Homo sapiens: one gene and its partners. The protein of the gene in region 1 interacts with the protein of each later gene in a biochemical or structural test. Each region holds a gene or a part of one and is shown in the gene's direction. Other genes may lie near its edges.

Region 1 (4,068 bases):
AAAACTCTGTATCAAAAAAAAAAAAAAAAAATAGAATGGGTGAGGTGTGAGAGGTCTGAAAAAGTGCAAGCAGCCAGAGGGAAGAGAGGCCAGGAAGAGGGAAACTGGGAGCTCTAACCTGATGGGATAAGCCTGGTCCTTGGGAAAGAGGGAAGCAGCTGCTCAGACCGTCTAGTGCTGACTGTTCTCCCACCTTCATCCCCTTCCAGATGTGCTAGTGCTGCTGATGACAGATGTACTGGTGTTTCTCCAGGAAAAGGACCAGAAGTACATCTTTCCTACCCTGGTGAGACATTCATTCTTCACCTTTCTCAGCACAGACAAGTGTTTTAGTCTCTTCTTGCTTTCCTGCCCAAGCCCACGAGAGCTCTGGAGTCCCCCAGAGTCAAACAGCTATAATTGTTACTATTACCGTAATAATAAAAAATAAGAGCAGCTCACAGGTACTGTTACTGTGCACAGGCACTTTTACACCTGTGGGAAAAGATTATTTTCGTCCTCATTTTATAGATGATGAAAGTAAAGCTTCAAGTCAGTTAAATAATTTGTCAAGGGTTGCACACATTTCTAAGTCCCTTCTGGCTGGCACCAGTGCCTGGCTCTTAACTGGTATTGTAAGATGACTCTTCAGTCCTTTCAGTCCTCGTCCAGAAGGATTGAAGGCCTAAATATGCCAAGGGACAGGATTCCCAGGCTTAATCCTTCCTTTCCCCTGACTGGCAGGACAAGCCTTCAGTGGTATCGCTGCAGAATCTAATCGTACGAGACATTGCCAACCAGGAGAAAGGGATGTTTCTGATCAGCGCAGCCCCACCTGAGATGTACGAGGTGCACACAGCATCCCGGGATGACCGGAGCACCTGGATCCGGGTCATTCAGCAGAGCGTGCGCACGTGAGTGTCTGCCTGCCGCCTGCATGTGCTTATGACCTCAGGGTACCTGCAGCATTAGATCCCAACCATAGAACTCCCTGGGAACAGAATCCAGCATTCAGAGGTGGGGGAAGAGGTTGAGGGAGAGACAAAATGGCCCAAGACTGGAAAGGTCACCTATGTTCTTATGTCCTGTAAAGCCACATTTTATACATTGCCAACCTCAACTCCCTTTCAAATTCAGCATGAGCTGACAAGCAAGGGAATACTTTGAGCTGTCACATGGTGGCATACCTGCCAGCCAACAGTACAATTTCAGCTGCATTCACATGTTCATCTGTAGGCAGAGGGCTGTTATTTGGATTGTATTGTATTTTACATTTATTTTTCTAAAAATGAATGAAAAAGAGGATAATGAAAGCATCGATACTAGAGAGGAACAAGTCTCATAAACAGACTCAACACAATAGAAGCAAGAAGGAAATCAGTGTGTCAAAGCAGCAAATCTTTAGCTTCTATTGGACACACATTAGATTTGAGGCAGTCAACTATGTGTCTAATTGTGATGGGAAAAAACATCAAATAAAGCACAGGTAAGATGTTTAAAATGGATTCTGGAAGATTATGCCTAAAGAATGAAGTGTAAGTGTAATTCTAATTCAGATTTTTACAGGTTTTCTTTCTTTTTTTTTTTTAATTTTTTTTGAGACAGAGTCTCGCTCTCAGCTCACTGCAACCTCCACCTCCTGGATTCAAGCGATTCTCCTGCCTCAGCCTCCCAAATAGCTGGGACTACAGGTGCCCACCACGACCCCAGGCAAATTTTTTTTTTTTTTTTTTTTTTTTGGAGACAGAGTCTCTGTTGCCGGGCTGCCTCAGCCTCCTGAGTAGCTGGGACTACAGGCTCACGCCACCATGCCCAGCTAATTTTTGTATTTTTAGTAGAGACGGGGTTTTACCATGTTGGCCAGGATGGTCTTGATATCTTGACCTCGTAATCGACCCGCCTCAGCCTCCCAAAGTCCTGGGATTACAGGCATGAGCCACTGCACCCAGCCAAATTTTTGTATTTTTAGTGGAGACGGGGTTTTGCCATGTTGACCAAGCTGGTCTCGAACTCCTGATCTCAGATTTATCCGCCCACCTCAGCCTCCAAAAGAGCTGAGATTACAGGCATTAGCCACCATGCCCAGCCAAGATTTTTATAATTTTTCTTTAGCTTTCAGGGAATCAGTTCTCAACTTTATAATTTGTAAACCTTTTTTTTTTTTTAACTTCTGCACCATGGAATTTTGAAAAGGTTTTTAGAAATGCATATAAAAGTATGAAATTGCAGGCCAGGCACAGTGGCTCACGCCTGTAATCCCGGCACTTTGAGAGGCTGAGGCGGGTAGATCACTTGAGGTCAGGAGTTCAAGACCAGCCCGGCCAATATGGTGAAACCTCGTCTCTACTAAAAATACAAAAATTAGCCGGGCGTGGTGGCATAAGCTTGTAATCCCAGTTACGCGGGAAGCTGAGGCAGGAGAATCGCTTGAACCCGGGGGTGGAGGTTGCAGTGAGTCAGGATTGTGCCACTGCACTCCAGCCTAGGTGACAGAGTGAGACTCCATCTCCAAAAAAAAATTATGAAATTGCCTATTCCAAGAAAGCAGTTCAAAATAACCTGTCCTGTTGACAGATCTGTAGTGGCTTCTTTATTAATAGTATTAATATTTATAATTGTGGCCAGGCGCTGTGGCTCACACCTGGAATCCCAGCACTTTGGGAGGCTGAGACAGGCGGACCACTGGAGTTCGAGACCAGCCTGGCCAACATGGCGAAACCCTGTCTCTACTAAAAATATAAAACTTAGCCAGGCATGGTGGTGCGTGCCTGTAGTCCCAGCTGCTTGGGAGACTGAGGCAGGAGAATCACCTGAACCTGGGAGGCAGAGGTTGCAGTGAGCCAAGATCCTGTCACTGGACTCCAGCCTGGGCGAAAGTGCAAGACTCTCTCTCAAAAAAAAAATTATAATTGTGGAAATTAATAATATTAATTGTAATTGATTTGTTGAGCTTCTGTTATGTTCAAAGCACTTTAACATTTCATTTAATCCTAATGAAAAACCTATGAGGAAGATATTACCTTCATTTTTCAAATGAGGAAATAGAGAGGTTACCACCTGGTAAACAGTGGAGCCAGGATTTGCATCCTGTTTGCTTGATGCCAAAGCCTGTACTTGACCCTCTGCACTGTGCTGCCTTTCCAAGCGACCTTTGGAGAGATATATCTCAGTAAACGCAGATAATCAGTGCTAAGAAATGGGAGAAGGTCGGCCGGGCGCGGTGGCTCATGCCTGTAATCCCAGCACTTTGGGAGGCGGAGGATCACCTGAGGTCAGGAGTTTGAGACCAGCCTGGCCAACGTGACGAAACCCCATGTCTACTAAAAATACAAAAATTAGCCAGGCATGGTGGTGCGTGCCTGTAATCCTAGCTACTCAGGAGGCTGAGACAAGTGAATCACTTGAACCCAGGAGGAGGTTGTAGTGAGCTGAGATAGCGCCCTTGCACTCCAGCCTGGGTGACAGAGTAAGACTCCGTCTCAAAAAAAAAAGAAAGAAAAGGGAGAAGGTCAGGACTAAATTAAAGCTAGGGTGTGAGGCTGAGGAGTCTTATCAGAAGATGGAAGCATAAGGCATGTTTGGGAAGGAGGGAAGGCTGATTCTGGTCTATAACCTAGCTTCTGTCTCTCAATGGCATGCGACCTGTTACCCCTCCAGATGCCCATCCAGGGAGGACTTCCCCCTGATTGAGACAGAGGATGAGGCTTACCTGCGGCGAATTAAGAGTAAGTCCACCCACAAGGAGCTCCTTAGTAATTTATAATACATTCACACAATGGAATATTATGCAACTGTTAAAAAGATGAGATGGCTCTATGAGGGCTGGTGTAGATCCACAACTGAAACATATTAAGTGAAAAAAGCAAGGTTTAAAACAATGTAAAGTGTATACTACCATGTGTGTAAAAATAATATGGAAGACCAAGGTTGGGTGAGTAACTTACTTTTTCACTGTAAGGCCTTATATTAGTTAGGGTATGATTTAACTGCTATACTAAAAGACCACAAAAATCTTCTTCCTTAAAAAAGGAAGTAGATTGGCCGGGCGCGGTGGCTCACGCCTGTAATCCCAGCACTTTGGGAGGCCGA
Region 2 (2,531 bases), on another chromosome or scaffold:
CTGCTGGGAATAGAGACTATCACTTTGCTTATTCTGAAAGTAGAGTGCCTTTTTAAAAAAGTTTCTCTTTTTTTTTTTTTTTTTTGAGAAAGGATCTCACCCTGTTGCCTAGGCTGGAGTGCAGTGTCATAATCATGGATCACTCCAGCCTCAACCTCCTGGATTCAAGCAGTCCTCCTGCCTCAGCCTCCTGAGTAGTTAGGACTGTAGGCACACACCACCCCGTACCTGGCCAATTTTGTTTTTGAAATTTTTTGTAGACGTGGGATCTTGCTATGTTGTCCAGGCTGTTGAACTCCTGGCCTCATGCGATCTTCTCATCTTGGCCTCCCTACGTGCTGAGATTACAGGCGTGAGCCACTGTGCCTGGCCAAATGCTTTTTAAATAAAAAGGAAGCTATAAAACCATGCTCCAGTGGTATATGTATGTATGTATGTATGTCATTTTGTAAGTGCATAGTGAAAGGTCTGCAAGGATGTACTTTGGGAAGGTGATGGTCTTTGGGGTTTTGAGAGAGAACTTCAGTCTTAGTCAAGATCTCCATTGTTTGAGGAATTTACTACTCTTGTAGTTAATTTTGATATAACAATACTACTTAGTGTAATTGCCTAATCTAGAAATAGTAACTTAATATGATTCTTCTTTTTCTAGCTTTGGACATCAGACAGTGCAGGAGAAGAATGTGATGCGGCAGAAGGGGCTGAAAACTAAATCCATACAGGGTGTCATCCTTCTTTCCTTCAAGAAACCTTTTTACACATCTCCATTCCTTATTCCACTTGGATTTCCTATAGCAAAGAAACCCATTCATGTGTATGGAATCAACTGTTTATAGTCTTTTCACACTGCAGCTTTGGGAAAACTTCATTCCTTGATTTGTGTTTGTCTTGGCCTTCCTGGTGTGCAGTACTGCTGTAGAAAAGTATTAATAGCTTCATTTCATATAAACATAAGTAACTCCCAAACACTTATGTAGAGGACTAAAAATGTATCTGGTATTTAAGTAATCTGAACCAGTTCTGCAAGTGACTGTGTTTTGTATTACTGTGAAAATAAGAAAATGTAGTTAATTACAATTTAAAGAGTATTCCACATAACTTCTTAATTTCTACATTCCCTCCCTTACTCTTCGGGGGTTTCCTTTCAGTAAGCAACTTTTCCATGCTCTTAATGTATTCCTTTTTAGTAGGAATCCGGAAGTATTAGATTGAATGGAAAAGCACTTGCCATCTCTGTCTAGGGGTCACAAATTGAAATGGCTCCTGTATCACATACGGAGGTCTTGTGTATCTGTGGCAACAGGGAGTTTCCTTATTCACTCTTTATTTGCTGCTGTTTAAGTTGCCAACCTCCCCTCCCAATAAAAATTCACTTACACCTCCTGCCTTTGTAGTTCTGGTATTCACTTTACTATGTGATAGAAGTAGCATGTTGCTGCCAGAATACAAGCATTGCTTTTGGCAAATTAAAGTGCATGTCATTTCTTAATACACTAGAAAGGGGAAATAAATTAAAGTACACAAGTCCAAGTCTAAAACTTTAGTACTTTTCCATGCAGATTTGTGCACATGTGAGAGGGTGTCCAGTTTGTCTAGTGATTGTTATTTAGAGAGTTGGACCACTATTGTGTGTTGCTAATCATTGACTGTAGTCCCAAAAAAGCCTTGTGAAAATGTTATGCCCTATGTAACAGCAGAGTAACATAAAATAAAAGTACATTTTATAAACCATTTACTATGGCTTTGTAACAATTGCATACCCATATTTTAAGGGACAGGTGAATTTACTACTTTCTAAAGTTTATTGATACTTCCCTTTTATGTAAAATGTAGTAGTGATACCTATATTTCCACATTGTGCATTGTGACACACTTGTCTAGGGATGCCTGGAAGTGTATAAAATTGGACTGCATTTCTTAGAGTGTTTTACTATAGATCAGTCTCATGGGCCATCTCTTCCTCAGATGTAAATGATATCTGGTTAAGTGTTATATGGAATAAAGTGGACATTTTAAAACTAGCAAAGTTAATTATGTGATTGTGAGTGCCTTGGCTGTTATTAGAATTGTGCTTCAGTGGATATTCAAAAGGAATGTAAGAGTTCAGACACAGATACTCCTCAACTTAAAATGGGGCTACACCCTGATAAACCCATTGCAAGTTGAAAATACGAAGTCAAAACTGCACTGAATACACCTGACCTAATGAACATTATAGCTTAACCTATCCTACATTAAATGTGCCCAGAACACTTAGCCCTACAGTTGGGCAAAATCAAAGAACATGAAGCCTACTTTATACTAAAGCGTTGGATCTCTCAGGTAATTTGTTGAACACTGAAAGTGAAAACCATTGATTGTATAGGTACTTGAAGTATGCTTTCTACTGAATGCCTGTCATTTCCACACCATTGTAAAGTCAAAAAATTAAGTTGGGGACTCTATGCTTCTGTTTGTAAACATTCAATCTTACTATTAGTGAGTTCAAAATAATTTTGGTTTTATAGTATCACAATAGCTATTATTTTACT
Region 3 (3,500 bases), on another chromosome or scaffold:
GGAGGTTGTAGTGAGCTGAGATTGTGCCATTGCACTCCAGCCCGTGCGACAGAGTGAGACCTTGTCTCAAAAAAGCAAAAACAAAAACTATTAGAGATACGTCTTTGGCCGGGCACGGTAGCTCAAGCCTGTAATCCCAGCACTTTGGGAGGCCGAGGTGGGCGGTTCACCTGAGGTCAGGAGTTTGAGACCAGTCTGGCCAATATGGCGAAACCTCGTCTCTACTAAAAATAGAAAAATTAGCTGGGCACGCCTGTAATCCTAGCTATTCAGGAGGTTGAGGCAGGAGAATCGCTTGAACTTGGGAGGTGGAGGTTGCAGTGAGCCAAGATTGTACCATTGCACTCCAGCTTGGGTGACAGAGGGAAACTGTCTTTTTTTGTTTGTTTGTTTTTAAAGGAGATACATCTTCATCTGTTCCTGCTTTGACCCTTTGCCTGGACCATGGCAGTGTCCTTTCAGGCTGTACGTCCCTCCATCCTGCCCTCCTGTGCCTCTGCTTACACTGGGCTCTTAAGGAAACTCCTGCTCCTTGTCTCATCATCCCTAGGGATGGTTCTGTCTTATCATTTCTAGAATTGGATGCCTTGCCATCTTGTTTGCTCCTTAACTCTGCATACAGGGCTGTGTAAATAATTCCTTCATGAAAATCTCTATTTCAATCTTCTGGGATGAGTTTTTTCCTTCTGGGACCCTGACTGATAGAGACTGATAATACACCCGTATGAAAATATGTCTGCCAGGTGCGGTGGCTCATGCCTGTAATCTCAGCACTTTGGGAGGCCGAGGCAGGCGGATCACCTGAGGTCAGGAGCTCGAGACCAGCCTGGCCAACATGGCAAAACCCTGTCTCTACTAAAAGTACAAAAATTAGCCGGGCGTGGTGGTGGGCGCCTGTAATCCCAGCTACTCAGGATGCTGAGGCAGGAGAATCACTTGAACCCGGAAGGCGGAAGTTGCAGTGAGCTGAGATTGTGTCACTGCACTCCAGCCTGGGCGACAAGAGCAAGGCTCTGTCTTGAAAAAAAAAGAAAAAAAGTCAGAAATAATTTGCAAAGCATGTTAGAAAATTCTAGATTTCCTGAATAGCAATTTAATTGAGATTGGCCAAGAAATATTACATAGGGTTGATACTCTTTTATTCTAAGATAGTCCTTTCTGAGCATGGGGTCTATAATTTTTTTTTCCTCCACCTTACTGCTGCCCCACCTTTTAACTTTCACTTAGTGGACCTTTGCCCCAAGATTTTCTCTCAGCTTTTCCTAGGTAAGACAGCATCACCCGGGCGCGATGGCTCATGCCTGTAATCCCAGAACTTTGGGAGGCCAAGGCAGGCGGATTGCCTGAAGTCAGGAGTTCGAGACCAGTCTGGCCAATATGGTGAAACCCTGTCTCTACTAAAAATACAAAAAAATTAGCCAAGGATGGTGGGGGGCGCCTGTAATCCTAGCTACTCGGGAGGCTGAGGCAGGGGAATTGTTTGAATCAAGGGAGGTGGAAGTTGCAGTGAGCCAATATCGTGCCACTGCACTCCAGCCTGGGTAACAGAGTGAGACTCCGTCTCAAAAAGGAAAAAAAAGACAGCATCTTACATTCAGGTATTTATAAACAACTTTTATTATTTATTTGTTTTTATTTTATATTGGCTCACTGCAGCCTCCACCTCCTGGGTTCAAGTGATTCTCCTGCGTCAGCCTCCCAAGTAGCTGGAACTACACGTGCCTGCTACCATGCCGAGGTAATTTTTTTTTTTTTTTTTTTTTTGAGAAGGAGTTTTCGCCCTTTTTGCAAAGGTTGGAGTGCAGTGGTGCGATCTCGGCTCACTGCAACCTCCTCCTCCTGGGTTCAAGCGATTCTCCTGCCTCAGCTTGTCGAGTAGGTGGGATTACAGTCACGCTCCACCACACTGACTAATTTCGTATTTTTAATAGAGACGAGGTTTCTCCTTGTTAGCCAGGTTGGTCTCAAACGCCTGACCTCAGGTTATCCACCTGCCTTAGCCTCTCAAAAAGTACTGGGATTACAGGCATGAGCCACTACGCCTGGCAATTTTTTGTATTTTTAATAGAGACAGGGTTTCACCATGTTGACCAGGTTGGTTTCGAACTCCTGACCTTAGGCGATCTGCCCGCCTTGGCCTCCCAAAGTGCTGGGATTATGGGCGTGAGCCATCGTCCCTGGCCTAAACAACAGTTTTATTATTTTATTTTTTATTTTTTTATTGCTTATTACTATTTTTTGAGATGGAGTCTCGCTCTGTCACCCAGGCCGGGGTGCAGTGGCATGATATGGGCTCATGGCAACCTCTGCCTCCTGGGTTCAAGCAGTTCTCCTGCTTTGGCCTCCCAAAGTGATGGAATTACAGGCCCGAGCCACTGCGCCCGGCCACAACTATTTTAATAGTGTTGTTTTGGTGTTGGTTGATTAAAGGAATGGGAACGAATGACTTGAAGCCCTCTCTGTTTCACTCTTTATACAAAGTGGAGTCCAGATTGGGCTAGTGGCCTGTCTAGCCCAATGTCTGACTTGGACATACATTACTGTCCAGGAGTTTCTTAGCTGAATGTGAAAAATGCCTTCCGTGACATCATCCTTACAGGAACATTCTTTACATTTATTCTTTACTTCTGTTGAACGGTGGTGGCGTGAACCATGAATTTGTTTAAGCTTTTCAGCTGTTTTGTGTGTTTTCCTCTCAAGGCATGGGGTTTCATATTTTTGACCTGTGGTAAAGGTATTTGAATTCTGCACTGGCCTCCAAATGTAGGTGTAGTATATGGCTCTGATCTTTGTTGATGATTTTATACATAATGTGGTTTTTTTTCTTGATAAGCCAAAAAAATTATACATAATGTGTGTGTGTGTGTGTGTTTTAATTTCAAATGATAGTTACAGTAAAAGTTTGGAGTTGGGCTAAGTGGGAGGAGCATCAGGAAGCCATTTTTAGAAACCTTAAATTCACCCTTTATAACTTTCTGTCTTTTTGCATTAGTCATCTGATACCTTAGTACTGCCTACTTTTTCACATCTCCATCACTACGTAGCTCTTAAAATTGTAGTCTTCCTTGAAAGGAGATGTTTTTGTCAAGAGTCTTTGCCACCAAGGCAGGATTGCATGTGATCAGTAGGAATATTTTCCTGCAATGTCTTAATATGAAAAATTTCAAACAGACTAGTGGAAAGCATTGTACAGTCAACATGCACATACCCATGGCCTGGATTCTATGACAGTATTTTGCTCTACTTGTTCATTTTGCTGTATTTGCTTTATCATGTCTTCCTGTTATCAGAGGGAACCTTTTAAGAGGATTTATAGAGGAGTTGATTTTGTTTTTTGTTTTGTTTTGTTTTGCTCTTTTTGAGGTGGAGTCTTGCTCTGTTGCCCAGGCTGGAGTGCAATGGCATGATCTCTGCTCACTGCAATCTCCGCATCCCAGGTTCAGGCGATTCTCCTGCCTCAGCCTCCTGAGTAGCTGGGCTTACAGGCACCCACCACCATG
Region 4 (3,500 bases), on another chromosome or scaffold:
TTTATTACTCATTCTGCCTGCTAAGTATAGGTGTTTTCCAAGATTCTTCTCTTTCTCCTTTACCCTTTGCCGGGTTCAACCATTTTTATAACTTAAACAAAAATCATCTCTTCCCAAATGACTTGTAAATATTTACCATAATTTATCATAAATTAAGTTGCCTACCAGACATTTGTCTTCAGATATCAAATTCAGCATATCCAAAATAGTACAAAATATCTCCTCACCAAAATAAGATTATCCTGCTAACTTACTGCTTCTAGTATCACTTCCATATGTCTGCTTCCTCAAATATGACCCTTATTTGTTGTTTTCCTCTGGTCTGTCATTATAAGATCCTTTCCATTTTTCTTCAGTAATTTCTCTTGGGCCTTAGGTCCTTTACCAAGGATCTAATTAGAAAAAAAATTACATTGGAGGAACTCCTTTACTTAAAAAAACTGTTTTAAGGTGAAAGGCAGCATGGAGTGTTAAAAGAATGTTTAGCTAGGAGATGGAAGACTTGTTTCTAGATCTGGCTCTGCGATTGATTTGGGGCAAGTCCTTTTACTCACTGGGGCCTTACTTCCTTTATTTTAAAGTGAAGAGGTTGAATTAGTGGATTTTCTATTAAGTCTTCTGTATTATATGTATGTCCTTTCTTTCTCCCCCTGCCCACACCACTTCAATAGTGTCTGCAGGCTCTGGAGTTCTTGCATTCGAACCAGGTCATTCACAGAGACATCAAGAGTGACAATATTCTGTTGGGAATGGATGGCTCTGTCAAGCTAAGTAAGTAGGAGCCTTAGGAATGATAATACTTCTCTGCCTGTGGGGCCCTGTCTCCTGTGAGATGGTCATCATATAATAGTAACTACGACACTCACCAAAGGGTCTTTATGATTTCATGGGATATGAGGGCTGTTTTATATTTTCTGTATTAATCATAGGATATCATTTCATTATTTTTTCATTCATTTATACATTTAACAACAACCACAAAAAACTTTGCTGAATGGTTACTCTGTGCTAGGTCCTGTGATGGGCACTGAGAGTAAATTTTCCCTACCTTCTCAATCTAGTATGGAAAACGTGTAATAGATAATTAGAAAAAAGAGTTTTGTATAATTTCTTTCATTCAGTTATTCAGCAAACTTTTATTGAATGTCCAGTACATGCTGGTCCTTCTAGGGATATGAGGACAAGTAAGAGGACATAATCCATACTCTCAAAGGCTTCCTAATTTAAATAAATTTATAATTGCAATATAATGTAAAAACCATGGCAGGTAGAGCATTTTGTTCAAAGGTGTAAAGACCAGTAGACCAGACAAACAGGCTGTGTCATGGGTGGATGGGCAGTTTATGGAAGGACTGCTAGCAGCCCTGGGTCTGGGGCATAAAAACAGGGCCATGCCTAGTCATAGGTGATTGGGGTTTAAATCAAGGACTCGTGCCCAAGGAATAAGACAAGGACCTAGTCGCCAGATTTGGGATTATGGGAATGGTTTTTCAAGAACAAAGCAGAATTGGGATGAGCAATCAAGACCAAAATGGGCAGCTTGGACTTTAACACTAAGTCCCCTGGTTTGAGGAGAAGTAGGAGGCCAGAGATGGTGTTTCTTATATTCCTTCTATTTCTCTTCAGGGTTCAATAGGAAATAGGCTAGGAGCTAGACATGAAGGTGGTAGTCAAGTGACTTTGGAGAGACAAAGGATAGCAGAGCTGGAAGCCAGGCGGATCTTGTCACCTATGTGTAGGTACACAGTCAACACTTACTGAAGTGAGTGTATATCCTAAATGTATGTTCTTTCTCTTATTTTTCTTTTCTAGCTGACTTTGGATTCTGTGCACAGATAACCCCAGAGCAGAGCAAACGGAGCACCATGGTAGGAACCCCATACTGGATGGCACCAGAGGTTGTGACACGAAAGGCCTATGGGCCCAAGGTTGACATCTGGTCCCTGGGCATCATGGCCATCGAAATGATTGAAGGGGAGCCTCCATACCTCAATGAAAACCCTCTGAGAGTGAGTGTTACCAGTTCTATTTCAAGTTATTTGGGCTGTTGTCTCTAGTCCCAGGAAATAAGAATCCAGGGTGTTCTCTGTGGTTTTCAACCTGGAGATCCCTTTTCTGGATACAACTAGTCACTGTTGAACTTAAAGTATAAATGGCCAAAGAAAAGGAATATTAGAAGTCACTCATTCATTTATTCAACAATTATTTGAGTCCCTGTCAAGTGCAAGAAACTATTCTAATGAAAATAAAATAAATTAATATGTAGTAACAGATGGTAAATGCTGTGAGAAAAAGCAAAGTAAGGGAGTTAACAGAGTAATGGAGGAACAGGTGTGCTATTTTAGAGTAGAGAGGGAAGTTCTCTCTTATAAGTTATTTTATTCTGCAGAGTTGGGAAGTCATTAGAGGGTTTTGAGCTGAGGAGTAATGTGATCTGATTTATGTTTTAAACAGATCATTTTGGCCGCTTTTATGGAAAATAGACTGCGAGAGACTGTTGTAATAGTTCAGAGTGGTGGTGTCTTGGTAGGAGTGGAAGTGAGAAGTGGTCAGATTCAGGAAATTAAAGGACTAGCTGACAAGATGAACTGAATATTAGAGAAAGAGGAATCAGCAATGACTACAAGATTTCTGGTCTGAATTGCTGAAAAAATTCAGTTGCCATCTGTTGAAATGGTGAAGAGCATACTTAAGTTGGGTAATAAAGAGTTGGTTTTGAATGTGCTGATTTGAAGTGTTAATTGGACATTTAAGTGGAGCTGGAGTAGAGTTTGGCTTAAGAGTCTGGAGTTCAAGGGTGAGAAGTCAGGACTATAAACATAAATTTATTAGTAGATAATATATAGTTGGTATATATAGTAGGTAGATGAGATCACTCACCTAGGGAATGAGTACAGTTAAAGAAAAGAGATTTGAGTACTGAGCTCTAGGTTATTCCACTGTTTACAGGTTGGAAGAACTAGCAAAGTAGACCAAGGAGTGGCCTTTCTAGTGTGAGAGAACAGAGAAGTGTCTTGGAGGTGAAGTGTCCTGGAGATGAAGAGAACAGTGTGCTTCCCGAAGGAGGAGGAGGGTAGATTATGTGTCAAATGTGATTGATAGGTTAAGATGAGACTGAGAAATGAACATTGGATTTGCCAATGTAGAGGTTCTTAATGACCTTAATAATCAGTTATCAGTAGAGAGATGGGGATGAAAGTCTAATTAAATTCATGAAAGTGGAAGAAGAGGACATTGAGATGGCATGTATAAACAGGTTTTTTTTTCTCTTAAAGGAATTTTGCTGGGAAGGGTAACAAAAATGGAGCACTATCTTAAAATGGAGTCAAGGGAGGGTTTTTCTAAAAGATGATGTCTGTGTGCTAATGGGAATGATTTAGTGGAGAGGAGGAAAATGGTCATGTACAAGAAGGAAGTGACAACCATAGAAGTGATATCCTTAAGTCGATGAGAGGGGTTCGATCAAGTACTGAAGTAAAGGACATTAGATTAGCATGGAC

Evidence for each region. Proteins that work in one complex are often made in the same cells at the same time.
Region 2: the proteins of ARHGEF2 (region 1) and YWHAQ form a complex in vitro, tested with the Homo sapiens proteins (one study listed by BioGRID).
Region 3: the proteins of ARHGEF2 (region 1) and RAC1 form a complex in vitro, tested with the Homo sapiens proteins (one study listed by BioGRID).
Region 4: the proteins of ARHGEF2 (region 1) and PAK1 form a complex in vitro, tested with the Homo sapiens proteins (one study listed by BioGRID).

What each region holds. Positions count from the first base shown.
Region 1 is NC_000001.11:155,954,538-155,958,605, reverse strand, and holds part of ARHGEF2 (rho guanine nucleotide exchange factor 2), read left to right. Parts: intron 1-209; coding exon 210-286; intron 287-723; coding exon 724-893; intron 894-3,636; coding exon 3,637-3,704; intron 3,705-4,068. UniProt on the Homo sapiens protein: Activates Rho-GTPases by promoting the exchange of GDP for GTP.
Region 2 is NC_000002.12:9,583,467-9,585,997, reverse strand, and holds the end of YWHAQ (14-3-3 protein theta), read left to right. Parts: intron 1-652; coding exon 653-712; 3' UTR 713-2,031; downstream 2,032-2,531. UniProt on the Homo sapiens protein: Adapter protein implicated in the regulation of a large spectrum of both general and specialized signaling pathways. Binds to a large number of partners, usually by recognition of a phosphoserine or phosphothreonine motif.
Region 3 is NC_000007.14:6,377,527-6,381,026, forward strand, and holds part of RAC1 (ras-related C3 botulinum toxin substrate 1), read left to right. Parts: intron 1-3,500. UniProt on the Homo sapiens protein: Plasma membrane-associated small GTPase which cycles between active GTP-bound and inactive GDP-bound states.
Region 4 is NC_000011.10:77,334,595-77,338,094, reverse strand, and holds part of PAK1 (serine/threonine-protein kinase PAK 1), read left to right. Parts: intron 1-671; coding exon 672-771; intron 772-1,812; coding exon 1,813-2,009; intron 2,010-3,500. UniProt on the Homo sapiens protein: Protein kinase involved in intracellular signaling pathways downstream of integrins and receptor-type kinases that plays an important role in cytoskeleton dynamics, in cell adhesion, migration, proliferation, apoptosis, mitosis, and in vesicle-mediated transport processes.